3 separate regions of the Homo sapiens genome follow, and all the other regions are linked to region 2. Evidence: fine-mapped expression QTL. A gene starts in region 2. Each other region holds a variant in brackets. All regions are shown on one strand. Distances are between the middles of the regions.

Evidence for each region.
Region 1: its variant is fine-mapped to the expression of CXorf38 in whole blood (TOPMed, PIP above 0.99).
Region 3: its variant is fine-mapped to the expression of CXorf38 in caudate (GTEx, PIP 0.99).

What each region holds. Positions count from the first base shown.
Region 1 is chrX:40,747,388-40,755,572 of GRCh38, reverse strand. No RefSeq gene overlaps it. Among named protein-coding and RNA genes, the nearest start is that of MED14OS, 16 kb to the right of the region's middle. RefSeq lists enhancers at 5,514-5,603, 5,674-5,753. The variant C/T (reference allele first, on the strand shown) is at 3,799.
Region 2 is chrX:40,643,173-40,651,348 of GRCh38, reverse strand. CXorf38 (chromosome X open reading frame 38) reads left to right here and starts at 3,788. Exons shown (of 7, transcript NM_144970.3): 1 at 3,788-4,044; 2 at 4,208-4,342. The coding sequence starts at 3,829. MED14 (mediator complex subunit 14) reads left to right here. Exons shown (of 31, transcript NM_004229.4): 31 at 1-3,044. RefSeq lists silencers at 3,572-3,752, 3,588-3,887, 4,008-4,157, 6,818-7,112 and enhancers at 4,408-4,607, 6,295-6,524.
Region 3 is chrX:40,866,841-40,875,025 of GRCh38, reverse strand. No RefSeq gene overlaps it. Among named protein-coding and RNA genes, the nearest start is that of MED14OS, 140 kb to the right of the region's middle. RefSeq lists enhancers at 3,377-3,456, 7,443-7,942. The variant C/T (reference allele first, on the strand shown) is at 3,802.

The DNA.
Region 1 (8,185 bases), 100 kb before region 2:
CTCTGTCTCCTAGTGGTTCTTAAAGGAGCCCTGAATCTCAGCTCCAGCCCCTCTCAGCTGCAGTCCTGGAGCAATCCTTCCCACATAGGGAACTGTTGGGAGTCTTGCCTGATGGTGCCACCAGGTTGGGCTTGCCAATATCAGTCACACAGCAGTTTCTGAAATAGCACTGAAGCTCAGTTTCAGCCCCTCCCAGCTGTGGTCTGGGAACAGTTCTGCCCAGCTGGGATCCCGCCAGGAGACGTGCCCTTCTGAGTCCCTGGATCTTGGTCCTGGAGGGAGGCATGTCTCGCAGTGTCCCTGAAGGCTGATTCCTTGACCTCGATCTCATTGTGGATCTTGAAACAGCCCTATAAATAGACTCCAGCCCTTCTCAATTGCAGTCTGATGGCAGGTCTGCTCACCCAGAAGCCCACCGGGAGACACACCCACCCCTGACCCTGGAGACAGGACTGAAGATCTCGATCTCAGCTGCGGACCCTGAAACAATCCTGTGTCTCTGTTCTAGCCCCTCTCAGCCATGGACCAGAGCAATATGGCCAGCCTAGGGACTCATCCAGTGATCCAACAGCAGCTCTCTCAGAATCACAGAGGAAGCCACACCCATCAGTGCACCTGGTAACAGGCCTGCCATCTGTGAATCCTGAAGTGGATCCTCATCCTAGCACCAGCCCCACAGACCAAGATCCTGGAAATAGTCCACTCCACTAGGGAACCATATAGGACCCATGCCCACTAACTTTGGTCTCCACTGCAGACCCGGCACCAGCAACATGATCTAGATTCAACCCTACTCAACTGGGATCCTGGAGGCAATCTCATCAACCCAGATACCTGGTATGGTTTGGATTTGTACCCCCACCAAATCTCATGTCAAATTGTAATCCCCAGTGTTGGAGGTGGGGCCTGGTGGGAGGTGGTTGGATTATGGGTGTGCATTTCTCATGAATGGTTTAGCACATCCCCCTTTGTACCGTCCTCATGGTCTTGATAGAGTTCTCATGAGATCTGGTTGTTAAAAGTGTACAGCACCTCCTCCCTCTCTCTATTGCTCCTTGCTCCCACCATGTGAGACACCTCATACCCCCTTTGCCTTCTGCCATGATTGGAAGCTTCCTGAGGCCTCCCCAGAAGCAGAAGCCACTATGCTTCCTGTACAGCCTGCAGAACCGTGAGCCAACTATACCTCTTTTCTTTATAAATTACCCAGTCTCAGATATTTCTTTATAGCAACGTGAGAATGGACTAATACAATACCTAACAGGAGAACACTTTAACTTGCCAAAATGTATCTGTAAAGACTGAAAGAAGGGTTTGCTCCTTCAAATGCAAGGCTACACAGACATCACCAAAGGAAGTTGTAACAACAAATGCCTACATCAAAAAAAAAAAGAAATCTCAAATAAACAGCCTAACCTTATGCCTCAAGGAACTAGAAAAAGAAGAACGAACTAAGCCCAAAATCAGTAGAAGGAAAGAAATAATAAAGATCAGAGCAGAAATAAATGAAATAGTGGCTAAAAAGATGATAGAAAACATCAACCAAACTAAAAGTTGGTTCTTTGAAAATGTAAACAAAATTGACAAACCTTTAGCCAGACCAACTAAGAAAAAAAGAGAGAAGACTAAAATAAAGAAAATCAGAAATAAGAGAGGAGATATTACTGATGTCACAGAAATACAAAGGACCATAAGAGACTGTTATGTGCAGTTATATGCCAAAAATTTGGTTAACCTAGAAGAAATGGATAAATTCCTAGAAACATACACCTAACAAGACTGAATCAAGAAGAAACAGAAAATATGAACAAACCAATAATAAGCAATGAGATTGACTCAATAATAAGACATCTCCCATCAAAGAAAAGCCCAGGACCAGATGGCTTCACAGTCGAATTCTACCAAATATTTAAATAACTAATACAAATCCTCCTCACACTTTTTCCCAAAAAAATGAAGAAGAGGAAATACTTCCAGACTGATTCTATGAGGCCAGCATTACTGATGCCAAAGTCAGGCAATAGCACTACCAAAAAAGAAAATTCCAGGCCAATATCCCTGATGAACATAGATGCAAAAATCCTAAACAAAATATGAGCAAACCAAATTAAACAGCATATTAAAAGGATAATTCACCGTGATCAAATGAGATTTATCCCTGGGATTCAAGGATGGTTCAACATTTGCAAATCAATGAATGTGATAAACCATAATAACAGAATGAAGGACAAAAACTATACAATCACCTCAATAGATGCAGAAAGGAAAAACATTTGAGAAAATTCAACATCCTTTCATGATAAAAACTCTCAACAAATTAGGCATAGAAGGAACGTACCTAAACACAATAAAGGCCATATATGAAAAGCCCACAACTAACATACTCAACAGTGAAAAGTTGAAAGCTTTTCCTCTAAGATCAGGAACAAGACAAGGATGCCCACTCTCACCACTTCCATTCAACATAGTACTGGAAATCGTAGCTTGAGCAATGAGGCAAGAGAAAGAAATAAAATACAGCCAAATTGGAAAGGAAGAAGTTAAATTGCCCCTGTTTGCAGACAACATAATCTTACATAAAGAAAACCCAAAAAACTCATGCCAAAACTGTTAGAACTAATAAATGAATTCAGTAAAGTTGCAGTATACCAAATCAACATGCAAAAATCAGTAGCCTTTCCTTACACTAAAAATAAACTATATGAAAAAGAAATTAAGAAAATTTGATGCTATCCACAATAGCATCAAAAAATTGAATATTTAGGAGTAAATTTAACCAAGGAGGTGAAAGGTCTGTGCACTAAAGACTATAAAACATTGATGAAAGAAATAGAAAAGATACAAATAAATGAAAAAGTATCCCATGTTCATGTATGGAAGAATTAATATTGTTAAAAAATGTCCATACTACCCAAAGCAATCTATGGGTTCAGTTAAATCTCTATCAAAATTACAATGTCATTTTTCACAGAACTAGAAAAAGCAATCCTAAAATTTGTATGGAACCACAAAAGACCCTGCATAGCCAAAGCAATCTTGAGCAAAAAAACTGGAGCCCAAAGATCAAAAGCAAAAGCTGAAGGCATCATACTACCTGGCTTCAAAATCTATTACAAAGCTGTAGTAATCAAAACAGCATGGTACTGGCATTAAAAAAGATGCATTGACCAATAGAACAGAATAGAGCCCAAAAATAACCCCAAGCACTTACAATCAATTGATTTTTGACAAAGATGCCAAGAACACACAATGAGAAAGGACAATCTCTTCAATAAGGAGTGTTGGGAAAACTGGACATCCACATGCAAAATGAGCTTGGACTCTTATACCATGTACAAAAATCAACTCAAAGCGGATTAAAGACTTAAACATAAAGCTTGAAACTGTAAAACTACTGGAAGAACACATGGGGGAAAATGCTCCACAACATGGGGGAAATGCTCCACAATAGCCCCAAAAGCAAAGGCAACAAAAGCAAAAATAAACAAATGGGATTGGATCAAATTAAAAAGCTTCCACACAGCAAAGGAAACCATTAACAGGATGAAGAGACAACTCAAGGACTGGGAGAAAATATTTGCAAACCATACATCTGACAAGAAACTAATATCCAAAATAAGGAACTCAAACAACTCAATAGCAAGAAAAAAAAACAAACTAGTTAAAACACGGACCAATGACTTGACATTTCTCAAAAACAGATACACCAATGTTCAACAGATATATGAAAAACACTTATCATCCCTAATCATCAGGGAAATGTAAATTAAAAGCACAATGGAAATATCATCTTACACC[C/T]GAATGTGAGGTGATATGATAGAATATCATGAAATCTATAATAGAATAGGTGATAATAGAATTATTATCAGAAAAACAAAAGATAATAAGTGTTAACAAGGGTGTAGAGAAAAGGGAATGCTTGTACACTGTTGGTGGAAATATAAATTAATATAGCCATTATGAAAAATATTATGGAATTTCCTCAAAAAGCCCCACAATAAATAGAACTACCATATGATCCAGCAATCCCACTACTGGGATTAAAAGGAATCCAATCCTGGCTAACACAGTGAAACCCTGTCTCTACTAAAAATACAAAAAAATTAGCCAGGCGTGGTGGCGAGCGCCTGTAGTCCCAGCTACTCGGGAGGCTGAGGCAGGAGAATGGCGTGAACCCAGGAGGTGGAGCTTGCAGTGAGCCAGGATCGCGCCACTTCACTCCAGCCTGGGTGACAGAGAGAGACTCTGTCTCAAAAAAAAGGAATCCAAAGGAATTAAAATCAGTATGTCAAAGTGGATATCTGTACTCCCATGTTCATTGCAGCATTATTCACAGAGGGTAAGATTTGAAAGCAAGGTAAGTGTCCATCAATGGATGAATGGATTTTTTAAAATGTGGTATATATACACAATGGAATACTATTCAGCCTTTAAAAAGAATAAAATTCTGTCACATGTGACAACATGGATGAACATGGAGGACATTATGTTAAGTGAAATAAGCCAGGCACAGAAAGACAAATATCACACCATCTCACCTACATGTGAAATTTTAAAAAGTCAAATTCATACAAGTAGAGAGTACAATGGCAATTCCCAGAGGCTGGAGGAGAGGGGTAGACATGGAAAGCGGAGATGTTTAAGTAGTTGAGGTGGTGAATTTGTTAATTTGCTTGATTTAATCGTTCCACAATGTAAACATATATCAAACATCAAGGTCAGGCAAGGTGGCTCATGCCTGTAATCCCAACACTACGAGAGGCTGAGGCAAGAGGATCACTTGAGGCCAGGAGTTCGAGACCAGCCTGGTCAACACAGGGAGACTCCTGTTTCTACAGTTTTTTTTTTTTTTTAATTAGCCAGGTGTGTTGATGCATGCCTGTAGTCCCAGTACTCAGAAGGCTGAGGAGGGAGGATCACTTGAACCCAGGAGTTCGAGGTTGCAGTGAGCTATGATCACGCCACTGCACTCCAGTCTAGGCGACCCAGCAAGACCCTGTCTCAAAAGAAAAATAAAAAAATAAAAAGAACAATTCTGTTTACCACAGTCTGCCCTCTGGCCCCCAATGATTCATGTCTCTCCTAAATGCAAAATACATTCACCTTCTCCCAAATTTGCCAAGGGTGTCAATACCATTACAGCTTAAACTCAAAGTCCAAACTCTCATCTAAATCTCATGAATTCAAAAATCCAATATCTCATCATCAAATCACTTAGATTAGGTGTGGGTGAGACGCCTGGCACAATTTCTCTCCATCTGTGGACCTATGAAACTGTAGAAACAAGTTATCTATTGCCAACACATGATGATGGAACAGGCATAGGGTAAGAGTTACAGACATTCTAGTTCAAAAGGGAGGAAAATGGAAGGTAAAAAGGATCACCAGTCCAAAGCAGTTTTAAAAGCTGGGAAACTCCCTTGGGTTTCAAGACTTGGAAATAATTCCACGTGCCTTTCAGTTCTGCCCTCTGGCTCTCGCCTGTGCCCCCTGGGCTTTCAGTTCCTCTCTCTGAGCCGTCCTTTTTTCATGAAAGGTAGAATGTGTTTACAGCTGAGTAGTTTTATCAACCTCCTTTCTGCCAGAGGAATTCTGGGAGTTTGACAGCTTCCTTTCACTTCAAACTCTGTCACTTTCAGTCCAAGCTGGCAGTATTTCTGCTGATACAAATTTCTCAAGAACCTTGTCTGCTTTGAGTGGATGTCATAGGAATTCACTACATTGAACAGAAGCCATGTCCACAAATCTGGTAGAGATCATTCCTTCTCTAGCTTTGGCTGCTGCTGAGATGGCTCAGGGACACCCTTAAGCTTCCTAGAAGCCACTGATTTGAATGAGATCTGTGAGGCACAGCATAAACCTCTTGTGATCAAATACTCTAACCTTTTGTCTCTTAATTTTAGTGTCTTCGTCAATCTTGATATGCTGAGAATTACCCAATTCCTTTGTGTTTAACAGTCCTTTCCTCAATTTGTCACTCTCTTCTTGGGTTTTACTATAATCGGCAAGAAGAAACTAGATGGCACCTTCAACACTTTACTTGACCAATCCAGTGAGACCCCATCTCTATAAAAATAAAAATAAATTAGCCAGGTGTTGTGGCACGTGCCTGTAGTCCCAGTTACTCAGGAGGCTGAGGCAGGAGGATCATTTGAGCCCAGGAGTTTGAGGCTGCAGTGAGCCATAATTGCACCACTGCACTCCTGCCTGGGCAACAGAGGGAGACCCTGCCTCTAAAAAACAAAAAAAAACCAAAAAAAAAACAACAAGCAAAAACAACTTTACTTGGAAATCTTTTCAGCTAAATATGTGAGTTCATTGCTTTCAAATTCTACCTTCCAAATAACTGCAGGACACAAGTTTCAGTTTTGCTAAGCTTGCTGCCAATACATAACAAGGATCTCACTTCCTCCAGATTCTTATAACATGAGCCTCACTTCCTTCTGAGGCCTCACCAGCCGCCTTCCCATAGTCCATATTTCTACTAACATTCTGTTCAAGGCAACTTAGGCTGTTATCATGCTCCACAAAATCCTCTTCAAACTTGGTTCCAAAGACACTTCCACATTTTTAAGTATTTCTTATAGCAGCACCACACTTTCAGGTACTAAAATCCATATTCGTTTTCTATCGTTGCATAACAAACTAACATGAACTTACCATATCCTGACCTATATTCTATATTTTGGCATTTATCTTATCTGGCTTTCTCTTTCTAAGGGTTATTTTGTCCGTGCCTTATCCAAGTCCTCTATGCCCCACTATATTTTTTCATGGCATTTCTTTACGCCTCTTCTCCTCTGCACTCTGCACCCACAGGCGTGCAGCAGCAGGCAGATGGCAGGAGCTCTATTAGAATTTGGTTTATTTCTTTGCTTACAAGTAATTTAAACATCAGAATATTCTCTTTTACCAAATACTGATGAAGGAATAAGTCACTGTATTAGTCCATTTTCGTGATGCTGATAAAGACATACCTGAGACTGGGTAATTTATAAAGAAAAAGAGGTTTAATGGACTCAACAGTTCCATGTGGCTGGGGAGGCCTCACAATCATGGTGGAAGGTGAAAGGCACATCTTACATGGCAGCAGATGAGAGAGAACTTGTGCAGGGAAACTCCCCCTTACAAAACCATCAGATCTCGTGAGACTTATTCACTATCATGAGAACAGCACAAGAAAGACCCACCCCCATGATTCAATTACCTCCCACCAGGTCCCTCCCATGACACGTGGGAATTGTGGGAGCTACAATTCAAGATGAGATTTGGATGGGGACACAGCTAAACTATATCAGTCATATGTTGCTTTATTTCATGAGGTTTATTTGTGGAGAGAGGGGTGAGTAGGGAGATTCAGAATGAGGCAGTATTGCCACTGTCCTCCAAACCCAGAAGGCTAGTTTTTCACAATGGTATAGATTATCTATTCTGAAACGACTTTCTATGTATTCTAGGATTGAGCAAATAAGTATATTGAGCCAGATTGTTCACTGTCAGAAAAGGAAGTTACAAATATGGAAAGGGGGAAGACTAGAATGAACCTCTGGTGTTGGATTGAAATATGAGGTATCAGTATGAACTCATGGCTTTAATATATATATATATATATATATATAGAGAGAGAGAGAGAGAGAGAGAGAGAGAGAGAGAGAGAGAGAGACAGATGTGGAAACAAATATGTGTGTAAATGTACACGTGTGTACACATGCACATGCATGCCCATACACACATTTGCAAGAAGGAAAGAGTTAAAGGAACTGACCTGCAATTTATTTGGTCTCTTTACAAGGGGGATATCCCTAGTGCAAATAAAATAATGCATAGTTATAGTGATTACTGATATATTAGTATTTCTTTTTTTCTTAATTTATGCTATTTCCCATTCTTTTGCTTTATTTTTTCCTCCTCATTTCATGCCAATTATTGGATTCGCCATGCTTCATTTTTTCTCTTCTTTTTCCTCTTCTGGCTTGGAAGTCATATAACCCATTTGTGCTCTTGTAGTAGTTTCTCTTAAATTTGGCATACTTGGTTTGAAATCTAAAGTTAATCTATATTGGCCGGGCTTGGTGGCTCACACCTGTAATCCCGGCACTTTGGGAGGCTGGGGCCAGAGGATTGCTTGAGCCCAGGAATTTGAGAGACCAGCCTGGGCAACATAGTGAGACCCCCGTCTCTGCAA
Region 2 (8,176 bases):
ATGAAATGTTCTGGGAGTTGTTATAAACACACCCCAAGGAAGCAATATTTAATAAAACTAGGTCAAAAACAAAACAAAACAGTGACACTCACTTGTGTGTATATAAACTCTAGAGACATCTTAGGCCCTCCCTTCATCTTTAACCTGGTGGATGGAGCCAGTTATTAATTTATAATAATACATGTCTGAAATTTGACCAAAAACATCTTCTTTATGTCAAGGTTAATATATTTTCTTCAGACATTCCTAACTTGACTAGTGGTTAACATTTAGCACCTTGGTTGTCTTTCAATATATAGGATTTGGGTGAAAAATAAGGAACTTAGTCTTTGAGAAGGGACAGTATGTGGTTCGTATTGATCAAGGATCCCAAATAATGCAATCATTCTCATCTGTTGAGGATGTGGGAACTTTTCTGTCAGGAAAATTTAGTTTACAGAATACTTCTGCATACAACATTAATTAGGAAACAAAGAACTTTAATGCTGTACCTCTGCATGAAGTTTCTGTGAGCTTTCTTTATCTTGCTTAACTTATCCTCCTTTCCTTCCCCACCAAAATTGGGATTGTTCTAAACAATTTCAATTTAATTCATTGTCAACAAAACGATAGAATGTTTTGCTTGGAAGAAACCTGGTCCATTCCCCTCATTGTGAAGAATCCCGAATCCTGGGCCTGTCCAGGGTCAAATGGAGTTTTTGGTATTAATACATCTCTGCAGGGTTTCTTTTTGGAGCACTGTGCTGTCTTTCCTAGTCAGTCAGGGACTTTTTTAAGCTTCAAAGAACATGGTCTGATGCAAAGGTCTTCTACCGACTTCATGGTATTTAGGAAAAATTTTTAAGTGATAATACCATGCCGAGTTACCTGGTCACTGTAATACTGGTTCTCCATTAAAATGTAGATGCTTTGTCTAATTCCACTTCAAGATGATTTAATTGAGCTTCTATAACTATCAACTATCAAATTCTAGTTTCAAGTATCTCACTGTACCTATATCATATCTGTTCTCAACTTTGTTTGATTCTCCACTCATTTTCAATCAGAGTTGAAGCCTTCTTTGCCTTTCTTCTTTGTCTTATTTCTGCCTTCATCTCCCACTTCTCACCCAACTCTGCCACTGTTCAGGAGCAGTTGACTAAACTTTTATCCTTCCTTTAACTTAATCTTTTTATCCTTCTGTTTTTAGTTCTTACAGTGGTAATCACATCAGTTTGGCAATCTAAGATGTCTTTATCAAGGGTCAGCCCTTTTCTATTTGGAGCTGAATCTTTTCTTTCATGTAGAAATCTACATGTATATACAAGAAATGTATTTTTATCTGCAGGATAATATTGTTTCAAATAATTTTATTAAGAGTTAACTTTTTAGGTATTTTCCCTTTTAATGTGGTTTTGAAATGTTAATTGCATTTTTACACATGATGCATTCAGTGGACACTCTTTTTTCCTAATTATAACTCATCTCTGAATGCATTGTGCCAATCAAGAGTAAGATAGGATTCAGTGCGCAAAATTTGCTTTTGATGCTTATTAAGAGTAAACCCATGAATTTGAATTTTTATATTATGCTTGGTACTTGGAATTGATATATACCTTATTAAAGCTTGAAAACATTTAGCATTTGAATAGTAAGTTTCATCACAAATCATGTCTTTTGCCTCTTTTGTTACCCAGGTTCGATCAAGGGGACTGGATGCCCAAGTGATTTTCTCTAATAATCGGGTTGGGACTTAACTTTAAGGTGTTTTCAATGTGATTTTAGTATTTACAGTAATAAATAAAATTTATACAAAGTTTCAGAGAACTACCAACTCTCTAGTTAATTTTGATGAAGATGTTTTCATTAATAGTCTGGTTTAGTATTAATTTAACCTTGAAATAAGAAATTGGTCCTGATTTGCCACCTTCATTTTTCCATCTGCTGAAATGCCATTTCAGAATGTATAAAAGTACTTTCAGAATTAGAAGAAAAGTGAGAGCTTCAGCAGAACGTGTCAAGTCGCTAATAACAGGAGTCGAACCTTATGTTTGAAAATTAACTGAGTGAGTTAAGTGCAAGCATAAACTAAAATTTATATGACTTTGAATTTAAGAACCACTAATAACTGTGTTCTAATTAACACAGTAATCTGTTCAGCCAAAGGATACTAACAGCCATTCTTTGGACTGTGGTTAATTTGATAACTTCAAGAAGTTATAACTTTGCTACCCTGGATTCTGATGCAATTTCAATATAAAAAGTTGTTCCTTTCATAGTTTTTCCCCCCAAAAGAAGTGCCTATTACATTTTACCTTAATGTTTATTTATCATCCAAGTGTTCTTGATATAAAATCAGTATACAGAAAATTTTAAGAGAACTTACATTCAAGGGACATAGAGGGAAAATGTTAATGTGTATTTCATTGTTTCTTGTGGAATTTTTTTTTCATTCGGTTTGAGAATGGACAGTGTGTCTAAGGATGTGATTTAAATTTACTTAGGATGGATTTAGCATTGAGGTTATTAAGACAAAGTTAGCAGAGGCCAGCCAGCACTGTGCTGCACAACTCCAGGAACTCCATGGTATGCTCACAATTTTCTGCAAGTTGCCTCCACTTCCAAGTGGCCAGTGATTTGTTAAAATACCTTGCCCAAGAATATAACTGATTGATGAAAGGGCATATTTAGGTCAATATAAAATAATAGCAAGTATTTACTGAGAGCTTACTGTGTGCTAGGCATTTTCTTAATATTTCAATGTGTATTTAATCCTCACAACAACCCAATGTGGTAGGTTATTGATATCCTCTTCTTAAAAATGAGTAAATGGAGGCCCAGAGAAATGTAATTTGCCTGAGATCAAATTAAGGTTGCTTAAGATCAAACTGCTAAGAAGGGGCAGTTTGAGTCTGAGCTAGTGCTCCTAAACACTGGACATTTTTGCTGTGAACCACAGTCGGGAAGGTTTAATGTTTAGACTCTTTCCTCAGAGGCTTTTAACTACACACAATTTTGACATGTTTTCCAAGCTCAGAAAGCTCATTAAAAACAACTAAAACTGACCTGACTTGTCACTTGGAGTTGACAATCCCAGTGCCTTCTGACCTTTGTGGCACTTCTTTGGAACTTAAATCAGACTTCCATGTGCAAGGAGCACTAATTATCATATAATCAAGAATACTAGATAATTATCGTCTAACCTTTGCTAGGTGCTTCAGGATGCCCTTATCTGGCTCAGGTGTGCAGCCTTCTAGAATCCAAGTGATGTGTTGCCCTAAACAGGCAAACGCCCCCTTCTGGGTGGTCCAGTGGCGGGGGATTTTGAGTTTTGGGTTAGCTTGGCACACCGCAGGCAGCCAGCGGTCACGTTTCACTAATACCTCAATTTGCTACAGCTGGTCTGTGGGCTTAGGAACCAGTAACTCTAGAATTGTATAATGCAAAGAACATACACGATTCAAGCAATGTGCCCTGAGCACCTTGTACATCTGGACAATAAAAAAAAGTTAAAACAGAAGTGCCCTACATTAGGAGAGGGAGTCGAATCGGATGCTGACAGGGTCTCTGTTTGGGGGACGAAGAGGGCCTAAGGGTTTCAAATAGTTAACTGCTTCCCCAAGCACCAAAGTTGTTAGACGTCAGACGTCAGACGTCACCCAAGTGGGGTGGAGCCGACGTGCCCCGGAAGTCAAGATGCCCCGCCCCGGGATCGGTGGCACCGCGCCGCGCAGGCGCAGGCGTCGCTGCCGCCGGCGCAGGCGCCGCTGCCTCGGGTACTTCCCAGGCTCCGCGCCTGCGCACTGCCGTCCGCCACGCCCCGCAACCTCCTGGTTCCAAGTGGGAGACATGGTGCTGTCGGAGCTAGCGGCGCGCCTCAACTGCGCCGAGTACAAGAACTGGGTGAAGGCGGGCCACTGCCTGTTACTGCTGCGCAGCTGCCTGCAGGGTTTCGTCGGCCGCGAGGTGCTCTCCTTCCACCGCGGCCTACTCGCCGCAGCCCCCGGCCTGGGGCCCCGCGCCGTCTGCCGCGGCGGCTCACGGTGCAGCCCTCGCGCCCGCCAGGTGAGCACCTGGCTCGGGGCCTTGACCACCGCCCCCACCCCACCCCTCCTCATCCCCGTTCCTGTCCCAGACCCAGAGCGCAAGTGTCCTGTTCCCTCCGCGATGCGGGGCCCACCGCGACGTCCCTCCCTCCTGGGCCCCTCCTCACCGCCGCCCCCTGTAGTTTCAGCCTCAGTGTCAGGTGTGCGCTGAATGGAAAAGGGAGATTTTGAGACATCATGTCAACAGAAATGGAGATGTGCACTGGGGAAACTGCCGGCCGGGCCGCTGGCCCGTGGACGCCTGGGAGGTGGCCAAGGTAAGCGCCTGAGGCGGGGACGGAAGGAGGAAGCGGCGGGTCACCCAGCACTCGGGGTGGCTATCTGGTCTTGTGGTCGCCGGGGCCTCATAAACAGATGCAGAGAGAGAGATTGATCAAGGGTCTAGGCGGTTCAGGGGTGGTATGCGGGACCCAACCCAGCTTAGTGAAGTAGAAGCTTTCTTCTACCCGTCTGCTTCCTGAGGGCATTTGAGTTTGTTACCCCTGCTTGGAAAGTTACAGGAAAGAGTTCTACAAGAGATACTGGGGCAAGATGCAGAGCGAGCATCATGAGCACAGGCAGGGAGGGAGGGAGACTCTTGTGTGGCCTGTTTGAGGGTAAGGCTCGCTGAACAGCTCATCAGCTCTTTTTTGGCTATAGGATGCCGTAAGGATGACAGAGTAAGCCAAGGGAAGTTAGGGCTAAAATAGCACCTTAAGTGCCCAGTTAAAGGCACTTTGGGTAGCTGGGAATGGGGTAGGCAGCCGGATCTGTCTTCAGATCTTGGCAATGTCACTTACTAAGTAGATCGAGTAGGAAATTTTTTTGCCCAGTAAGGGACGGAGAGGGACAGCCAGAAGTGGCTTCCTAACACAAATTGACTTTAGCAGTCAGTCTACATGCCAGTAGTTATCAGCAGGCACAGGGTGGGCACTGGAAAGGAGCAGTGCCTGGGAAGCAGATGATCTGAGTCCTGGATCAGCTGCCGTGGTGTGACACTGGGCCAGCTTGTGCTCCCCAATCTCAAAAATGAAAGGACGGCCGGGCGCAGTGGCTCACGCCTGTAATCCCAGCACTTTGGGAGGCCGAGGCGGGCGGATCATGAGGTCAGGAGATCGAGACCACGGTGAAACCCCGTCTCTACTAAAAATACAAAAAAATTAGCCGGGCGCAGTGGCGGGCGCCTGTAGTCCCAGCTACTCGGGAGGCTGAGGCAGGAGAATGGCGTGAACCCGGGAGGCGGAGCTTGCAGTGAGCGGAGATCGCGCCACTGCACTCCCGCCTGGGCGACAGAACGAGACTCCGTCTCAAAAAAAAAAAAAAAAAAAAAAAAAAAAAAAAAAAAAAAAAAAAATGAAAGGAATTGGGGCCGGGCGCGGTGGCTCATGCCTGTAATCCCAGCACTTTGGGAGGCCAAGGTGGGAGGATGGCTTGAGCTCAGGAGTTCAAGACCACCCTGGATAACATGGCAAAACCCCGTCTCTACAAAAAAATACAAAAATTAGCTGGGTGTGGTGGTGCATGCCTGTAGTCCCAGCTACTCAGGAGGCTGAGGTGAGAGGATCACTGGAGCCTGGGAAGTCGAGGCTGCAGTGAGCCGTGATCACACCACTGCATTCCAGCCTGGGTGACAGAGCAAGACCCTGTCTTAAAAAATTGAACTGTATCAGGGGTCCCCAGACTTTTGGGTATCACGAGCCGGTAAACCCACCACACCTACACCATCTTCCCCATTTTTTTCCACTGCAGCCATAGAGTTGCTGACTTCTACTTCTACCTAGAAAAGAGAAAAAAAACAGAAAGAAAGAAAACTCTGCCCTTTACAATGCCTGTCCCTCATCTGTTTGGTCTGCGTTGCTGCTTTCACACCATTGGAATCCTCTTGTAGCCTGTACTACCTCCTTATACCACTCTTTGCTCCTCTTGGTTGCTGTCACCTACAGACCTTCTAGTCCAACCCCATCCTCTCAGTTTCTGGGCTCCTGATTCCAGCATCCTCTGCTTCACTCCCCCTCAGCCTCCGGCTTGCATGCCCACACCCTGGACCTTGGCACAGAAAGTCTCAGTGTCTAACATCCTGCTGGCCTTTGGCACACTTATTCATGCACCCCTGCCCCCAACCCTGTGCCCCATACTACTTCCGCCTCTTTGAGGCTTCCACTGCTTCCTGAATACCCAGCACCCTCTGTCCTCCTGCCTGCCTTTGTCACCTCAGCTAGCCCAGATTCCATGGCCCATCATTATAATCCGTCCCTTGCTGTTATCTCAGCTTTTTTTTTCTCCTTTCTCTGAACTTGCCTGGCCCAACTCCAGTCCTGATGACATTTTCTGCTTCTGATTAGTGGGAAAGAATCTCACAAGGGAACTGACTGGTTTCACTTTCATTCTTGATCATGAGCCCCAGCGGTCTGGCCACATCTCTCTCTAGGCTTCAGTTTCTGGAGACTACTACTTTTCCCTGGCAAATCCCTGCTCCCGTTCCTCCGCCCTTGCTCATGCTTCACGGAATTGATGGAGGCCCTTGGACATACATAGTTGTCTCTCCTTATCCATGGGGTATTGCTTCCAAGACCCCCAAGGATACCAAAATCCACAGATGCTCAAGTCCCTGATATAAAATGATGTATGTGGTATTTGCATATTACTTACATACATTCTCCTATGTACTTTAAATCATCTCTAGATTACTTATAATACTTGATAGAATGTAAGTGCTATGTAAATAGTCGTTATGCTATATTTTTAAAAAATTTCGATTACTTTTTACTGTTGTATTATTTTTCTGAGAATTTTTCATCCACAGTTGGTTGATTCTATGAATGCGGAACTCGTGGATATGGAGGGCTGACTATACTTCCTCTTCTTTTTGCCAACACCAACTAATCTCCATGTGCACCATCTATTTCCTTCTGCTACAGAGGAGGAAGGGTGTCTCTCCTCTTATTGCCTCATACCTCCACTCGTGTGTTGGATCTTATCCCTTTTCTCTTGCTCAAGGCCTTTGAGGCTTCAGCTGTCCACTCTCTCTCTTGCAGCTCATTCCCATCTCCATAGAAAAAGCTTTAATATAGCCATGGTTTATTTAAATTTTTTTAAAAGAAACAATTAAACAGTTACCACATGACCCAGCAATTCCCCTCCTAAGTATATTCCCAGGAGAAATGAAACCATACATTCATACAAAAAAATGTACGCAGATGTTCATAGCAGCTCCATTCACTATAGCCAAAAGGTAGAAACAACCCAAATACCCATCAGCTGATGAATGGAATTTTTAAAATGCAGTATCTCTGTACAATGGGATATTGTTTTGCTGTAACAATGTAACAAAGGAATTAAGTACTAATACAAGTTACAATGTGGATAAATCTTGAAAACAGTATGCTGAGTGAAAGAAGCTAGTCACATATTATATTTATATGAAATGTCCATTTTATATAAATTCCATTTAGACTCCATTTGTAAGAAATGTCCAGGCGGGGCACGGTGGCTCAAGCCTGTAATCCCAGCACTTTGGGAGGCCAAGGTGGGCAGATCACCTGAGGTCAGGAGTTCAAGACCAACCTGACCAGCAAGGAGAAACCCTGTCTCTACTAAAAATACAAAAAATTAGCCAGGCATGGTGGCGCATGCCTGTAATCCCAGCTACTCGCGAGGCTGAGGCAGTAGAATCACTTGAACCTGGGAAGTGGAGGTTGCGGTGAGCTGAGATTGTGCTATTGCACTCCAGCCTGGGCAACAAGAGGGAAACTCCATCTCAAAAAAAAAAGAAAAGAAAGAAAAGAAAAGAAATATCCAGAATAGGCAGATCTATAGAAGCAGAAGTAGATTAGTGGTTGCCAGGGCTTTGGGGAATGAGGGATGATAGCTAATGGGTATGGGGTTTCTTTTTGAGGCAATGAAAATGTTCTAAAATGGACTGTAGTGGTGGTTGCACACCTCTTTAAATATGCTGGAAACCACTGAATTATAATGTGTAGATGGGTGAATTATATCTCAAGAAAGCTGTTTTTTTTAAAAACACTTGAATAAATAATTGGAAAATAAGATTTTAAGAGGCCGGATGTGGTGGCTCATGCCTGTTATCACAGCACTTTGGGAGGCAGAGGTGA
Region 3 (8,185 bases), 220 kb before region 2:
GAGTAACACCTACCTTGTAGGGTTGCTGTGAATATTAAGGCAATAGATCTGCATTCTCTTTTATAAAGGCCAAGCACTACATGAATGTGACAAGCCATTATTATGGATAGATTTCTTATTTACCTACGTAATAAGATATGAAAATGGACCTTCCCAATGCTGTTTTGCACCAATACAAGAGACATCCAAAAGGAGTGTGCTCAGATCTACAGAGGCTGACTTTACAAAAGGTATGCTCTAAGACTCTCAAATGCCCTCAACAATTTTGACTACAAAGGCATCAAGAGAGGGTAGAAGTAAGAAGGATTTGTGAAGAAGGTTCTTTAGATAAGGCTACTGCCATGCTGTGGGCATCCCTCTCCGACCCCTGAGGTGATGGGGAGCCCCCTTTTAACCTTAAGTCCGTGAAATGGTACTTTAAAGGGACCCTTGAAGAGGTAACTGTGTGTTCTCTGTGGTTGGGGAGCTAGGATCAGAGCCTGAATTAAGACAGCCTGTGATAGCGGGCTGCACCTCTGCATGTGGGAGCCATGGGGGAAAAAGAGGCTGGACGCTAGGCATGGCAGCTTACACCTGTAATCCCAGAACTTTGGGAGACTGAGATGGGAGGATTGTTTGAGACCAGCCTGGGCAACATAGTGAGATCCTATCTCTACAAAAGTAAAAAAAATCGGCTGAGCGCAGTGGTTCACGCCTGTAATCCCAGAACTTTGGGAGGCCGAGGCGGGTGGATCACGAGGTCAGGAGTTTGAGACCGGCCTGGCCAACATAGTGAAACCCCATCTCTACTAAAAATACAAAAATTAGCCGGGCATGGTGGCAGGCACCTGTAATCCCAGCTACTTGGGAGGCTGAGGCAGGAGAATCGCTTGAACCTGGGAGGCGGAGGTTTTGGTGAGCCGAGATTGCACCACTACATACCAGCCTGGGCAAGAGCGAGACTCTGCCTCAAAAAAAAAAAAAAAAGTAAAAAAAAATTAGCTGGGCATGGTGGTACACGCCTGTGGTCCCAGCTACTTGGGAGACTGATGTGGGAGGATTGCTTGAGCCCAGGAGGTGGAGGCTGCAGTGAGATGAGATTGCACCATTGCACCCCAGCCTGGGTGACAGAGTGAGACCCACTCTTGAAAAAAAAAAGAAAAAAAGGTTGGAGTCTTCTTTTGTTAATCTTTTTGGAAATATAAGATACATATTAAAATGTGCACAAACAACAGGTTTATAGCTTGATGAATTTTCACAAACTGAATATCCCAACAAAACCAGAAGATTAATTACTAGCATCCCATAAGGTCTCTGTACCCCGCTTTCAGTCACTACTACCCCCAAGGGTAACTACTATCCTGACCTCTAATAGCACAGATTATTTTTGCCTCTTTTTGTTCTTTATATAAATGGAATCATACAGTGTGTACCCCTTAGTGGCTCACTTCATTGCTCAACATTCTATTTATGAGAGCCATCCATACTGTATGTAGTTGTAGATCGTTTATTCTCACTACTGTATAGCATCCCATTGTGTGAGCATTCCACAATTTATCCGTTCTACTGTTGATAGACATCTGGGTAGTTTCCAACTGGGGGCTATTATGAATACCTACGGATATTTTAGCACATGTCTTTTGGTAAACATATGTACACATTTCTCTTGCACATACATCTAGGAGTGGGACTTCAGAGTTATAGGGGTGGTGTCTGTAAAAGCTACAACAGTTTTAAGTGTTTCCAAAGAGGATTTCTTAAAGAAAGTGTGGATTCGAGCCTCTACTCCCACTCTCTCACATCAGCCCAAGAACCAGAAGCCAAAAGGGGTGTGGATTTTAGAGAAACACTGTATGGTGAGCATCACCAGAGCTGCAATCAAAGGGGCCCAGCGAAGGAGCCTCCCATGAGCCCCATGGAAGAATCTATATGCCAGGAACATGGCCCAACCTAGAGAAACATTTTAATCTAGCGCAGCATTGTCCCTGCCTCCACATGGGTATTGTGAAGGGCTGCTGTTGAGAGGCTAGCCTTTGAGCTCCATTTCTGGACAGCTGGTTTTCATCTGACCAACTTCACTCCTTGGCTGTGTGACTTTTGGAAGGTCATTCTTTCTCTCTAGGCCTCACTTTTCTCATCTTTCTGATATGAGGCTGCTTTCTGCTCTGAACTTGTAATTGACTGCGTTCTAAATGCCTCACGAACGGAAAGCACGTCTTCACTTTCCTCTGTATTCCTAGAGAGCACCTCATGCTCTACATACCTATTGGCACAGTAGGTCACTAGACAACAAATGTCTTGCAATTTCATTTTCTAAAGAAAAAAAATCTGCTTTTATGGGTTCAGTGATGCACAAAATGAGGATTTAATTGGCGCATTAAAATTAGCAACATGGTGTGTGTGTGCCTGTCCAAATATAGATGTTATACTGCACACCAGCTTTATGGAAAAATCCATTTCCATTCTTGTGCAACTGAGTTTCTCTGAAGAAACAGAGCAAAGACCATCTATGTATCATAAATTTGTCAACTCACTATTTTACCCAAGGATGTTGGGTAATTAGATTCCAACATAGACCCAAAGAATTCTTTTCTTCATCTGGGAACTTGTTTTATCACTTGCTACTGCCTTGATCCTAATGCTTAGCATTTAAAGGTTATATATAGGAAAAAAAAAAAACCACTCCATTGTGTAGTCACTGTCTAGAATGGCATTATATTTTAACAGGATATTATCACTCTGAAAAAAAAAGAAATCATTTTTACTGGGTAGGAAATTATTCCATCATACGGTATTATTCAAGCAATTAGAAATCACATTGTGTGGTGAATGATCAGCTCTTCTTGGTGGAGTTTGTTATTATACTGTTCGTATTTAAAATGTGGGGCTGCAGAGAGAAGAAGGCTTCTTTAGTAGAAGCATGAACACTCTAAGCAGCTCAGGCAGGTGAGCCGTGATGCAATTTTATTTCCCAGGAAATTCTTTCTGGAGTTCCCCTGAAGTTCCCTGTCTTACTTCACCCACAGAAACCTTGAATTCTTTCCCTTTAGCTAAGCTAGGCACCCCTAGGGCTTTATAGGGAACTGACAACTTAAAACTTGGTATTGATCCAAAAGTTTGTTGGAAAATCTGTCTTAGAATTCAGAACAGATTTTCTTCAGTTCTATATGAATGACTGGTTCCTAAGCACACCACCAGAGCCCACGCCACCCACAGGAAATGAGACGCTAGTATTAATGATGGTCAAGAACCAGTTACTTGGTAGAGTGTTATTTCCTGGTGAAAATCCACTCTAAGTTTTCTTGTGAGAACAGAAACTCAGCTCACCTTCTCTCCTCCCTACTGTGCTCTACTGTCAGAAGTGGGGATTCCTACACCATGGGGGATTGGAGTGTGCAGGACAGGAAAATGAGTTGGAAGGCATCCAGAAGTCTGAGCAAAGGCAGGGGCTTCCCAGCAGTGACAGAAAGACGAAGGGAAAAGGAGCAGGGGTGGGCCCAGCAATGATGCAGGGGTAGAGGTGAGAATATTTATAGCTTCAGCTGCAATCAGGAGGAAAGTCCCTGGACACAGAGGTAATTTTGCTCATGGGACATCAGCAACTTGTACAGTCATAATTGAGGGACTGTCCCAGTGAATACACAAGTTGATGCTTTAACATTCACTCAAGCCTACTGAAACTTAACCTTTCTTTCCACTTAAAAAAAAATCATGAAAATAAATCATTCTATAAAAAAAAGATACATGGACCTGTATGTTCATCGCAGCACTATTCACAATAGCAAAGGTATAGAATCAACCTAGATGCCCATCAATGGTGGA[C/T]TGGATAAAGAAAATGTAGTACATATACACAATGGAATACTACACAGCCATAAAAAATAATGAAATAATGTCCTTTGCAGCAACATGGATGGAGCTAGAGGCCATTATCCTAAGCAAATGAACACAGGAACAGAAAACCAGATACCACATGTTCTTGCTTATAAGTGATAGCTAAACATTGGGTACATAAGGACATAAAGATGGGAACAATAGACACTGGGGACTACTAGAAGGGGGAGGGGAAAAGGGGGACAAGGGCTGAAAAACTACCTATTGTGTACTATGCTCAGTGCCTGGGGGACAGGATGATTAGTACCCCAAACCTCAGTGTCACACAATATACCCATGTAACAAATCTGCACATGTACCTCCTGAATCTAAAATAAAAGTTGAAATTATTTTAAAAACCATACTTCAGATATACAAAAAGTATACAGAACAATGTAACAAACATCCAGCTGAAGATAGAAAACATTTCAGGGCCGGCTGCGGTGGCTCACGCCTGTAATCCCAACACTTTGGGAGGCTGGGGCAGGCAGATCACCTGAGGTCCGGAGTTCGAGACCAGCCTGACCAACATGGAGAAACCCCATCTCTATTAAAAATACAAAATTAGCCAGGCGTAGTGGCGCATGCCTGTAATCCCAGCTACTCGGGAGGCTGAGGCAGGAGAATCGCTTGAACCCAGGAGGCGGAGGTTGTGGTGAGCCGAGATCGCGCCATTGCACTCCAGCCTGGGCAACAAGAGCAAAACTCCGTCTCCAAAAGGAAAAAAAAAAAAAAAAAAAACCCATTTCAGATATAGTTGAGCCCTCTGTTGTACCAAGTCTCACTTTCATTCTCTACCCCAAAACAGCTACAAGTTTGGTATTATCATTTCCATGTGTATTTTTATTATTTTATTACATGTAGATCACATATACGTATATTATAAATCTATAGACATTATATCCTATTATAAATCATTAGGGATATATGTTTATCCTAAATGATTTGATATTTTTGCATATTTTAACATTTTATAAGTGGTAGCACTTTTTTTTTTTTTTTGAGACAGGGTCTCATTCTGTTACCTAGGCTGGAGTGCAGTGGCACAAACATGACTCACTGCAGCCTTGACCTCCTGAGCTCAAGCAATCCTCCTGTCTCAACCTCCCATGCAGCTGGGACCACAAGTGCACACCACCATGCCCAGCTAACTTTTTAAAAACTTTTTATAGAGATAGGGTCTCACTTTGTTGCCCAGGCTGGTCTCAAACTCCTGGGTTCAAGCAATCCTCCTGCCTCAGCCTCCCAAAGTGCTGGGATTACAGGTATGAGCCACCATGCCCAGCCTAATGGTAGCACTTTCTATGTGTCCTGTCACTTGTTCTTCCTTTCTAACATTATGTTTTAAAAATTAGTCTATCTTGCTTGGAAATATACTACAAAGCTATAGTAACCAAAACAGCATACAGCATGGTCCTGGCATAAAAACAGACACATAGACCACTGAAACAGAATAGAAAGCCCAGAAATCAATCCACACATCTACAGCCAACTGATTTTCAACAAAGTTGCTAATAACACACATTGGGAAAAGGACAGTCTTCTCAATAAATAGTGCTAGGAAAATTAGATATTCACATGCAGAAGAATGAAACTAGAACCCTATCTCTCACCATATACAAAAATCAATTCAAAATTGATTAAAAACTTAAATGTAAGACCCAAAACTATGAAACTGATAGAAGAAAGCAGGGGAAATGGTTCAGGGTGTGGGTCTGGGCAGGGATTTTTTTTGATAGAATCTCAAAAGCACAGGCAACTAAAGCAAAAATAGACAAGTAAGATTATATCAAATTAAAAAGTTTCTGTACAGCAAAGGAAACAACAGAATGAAGAGACAACTTACAAAATGGGAGAAAATATTTGCAAACTATGCATCTGACAAGGGGGTTAATATCCAGAATATGGAAGGAACTCAATTCAATAGCCAAAAAAAACCCCATCTGATTAAAAAGTGGGTAAAAGGCCTGGATAGACATTTCTCAAAAGAAGACATACAAATCGCCAACAGGTATACGAAAAAATACTCAGCATCACTAATCATCAGGGAAATGCAAATCAAAACCAGTGAGATATCATCTCATACTAGTTAGAATGGCTGTTACTAAAAAGACAGAAGATAATAAGTGTTGGCAAGGATGTGGAGAAACGGGAACCCTTACATACTGTTGGTGAGAATGTAAATTAGTACAGTCATTATGGAAAACAGTATTGGAGGTTCCTCAAAAAATTAAAAATAGAACTACCATATGATCCAGCAATCCCACTACTGGTTATATATCCAAAGGACATGAAATTGGCATGTTGAAGAGTTATCTGTACTCCCATGTTTATTGCAGCAGTATTCATAATACCCAAGATATGGAGTCAACCTGTGTTCATCAGTGGATGAATGGATAAAGAAAATGTTGTATATATACATGATGGGGCCAGGCGTGGTGGCTCACACCTGTAATCTCAGCACTTTGGGAGGCTGAGGAGGGTGGATCACTTGAGGTCAGGAGTTCCAGACCAGCCTGGCCAACATGGTGAAACCCTGTCTTTACAAAAAAATATATATATATATTAGCTGGGCATGGTGGCGGGCACCTGTAATCCCAGCTACTCAGTAGGCTGAGGCAGGAGAATTGCTTGAAGCTGGGAGGCAACGGTTGCAGTGAGCTGAGATCGCACCACTGCACTCCAGCCTGGATGACAGAACAAGACTCTGTCTCAAATAAATAAAAATAAAATATATACAATGGAATACTATGGATAAAGAAAATATTGTATATATACATAATGGAATACTATTCAGCTGTAAAAAAGAATAAAGTTCTGTCATTTGCAACAACATGGATGAACCTAGAGGATATTATGTTAAATGAGCCAGGCACAGAAAGATAAATACTGCATGATCTCACTCATAGGCAGAATCTAAAAAAGTTGATCTCATAGAAGTAGACAGTAGTAGTGGTTACAAGAGGCTGGGGAGGGTGGGGAGATGGGGTATGGAAAGAGGTTGGTCAATGGGGACAAAGTTACAGTTAGATAGGAATAAGTTCTGGTGTTCTATGGCACAGTAGGGTGACTATAGTTAACAATATTTTGTATATTTCAAATTTCCTAGAAAAGAGGACTTTGAATGTTCTCACCACAAAGAAATGATAAATGTTTAAGGTGATGGATTTGCTAATTGCCCTGACTTGATCATTATACAATGTATATATGTATTCAAATATCACATTGTATCCCATAAATATGTACAGTTTTTGGTGTCAATTAATAAAATAAAGCTTAAAAAAATTAGTCCATGTTGCTAATGTGGCTCTAGGGCATCCATGTCAATACTGCTGTATAGTATTCCATCTTATAAACAGACCTTTTCTACCACCCAAACTCAGGACCCAGCCATGCACTCACTTCTTTTTCCCACCTCACACAGGATATTAGATTCTTAACTCACAGTCAGAGGAACACCCTTTTCTAAGGACCAAATTGTCCAGGTGCCTCACCTAAGCCCTCCTTCCTGAGCCCCAGGAGAAGCTGCCATTGGAAATGGCAGGCTGCCTGGTGAGTATGGATTCAGAACATGATCTGACCTTGACAGAGAGTTTGTCCTTGTCATGGGATAAGAACAGAAGAACTGCCTCCAGCCCCGGTGGATAGATGACTCACATCCCTGGAACTTCCTACCTCTTTTCCCTGGATGGGATCCAAGTCATGCTGTCAAAATAGAATTAATTCACTCTTTAAAAGGGAAAAAAATTCTCAAAATTTAGAATAACAGAATCATACAATGCAAGAGCTAGAAGAGTAACTTGTCCCTGCCTCCTTCCCCAACACCTTAATATAAGACAAGGGACATCTGGGCATCAGCCAAGCCAATTATCTGAGGATATTTCTAGACAGCAGTCACTTGGGGTTTTTCTAGAAGGGGCCGAAGGGTGAAGACCTGAAAAGGAGCAAAAGCAGAGTGTTGGAATGGCTGAGAAGCACCCTTCATGATTAATCAGTGACATTTAGAGCCATCTCTCAGCTCAGCTCAGCTCACCAGAGCAGGGAATCTCTTGGCAAAAGTCTCTGTCCCAGGATTTCTGGCACTTAGTTTGCTGGCCTGTATCAAGCATTCCTTGAAAACTATCTGGCCGGTCAATGCTGGTGCCTGCCATGCAGTATCTTTGAAGTAGGAAAAGGGCTCCTTTGAGTTCTAACCAACAGCTTTGACTGTGTGGAAGCTGTTAATTTACCACAGTTGGCTGCTTTCCCCATCACCCCTCTGATCTACAAGAAGGATCTGAAAAGGAAGCCCTGAAAGTTAGCGCTAACATGAACCCTAGAGATGTTCTAGCCCAAC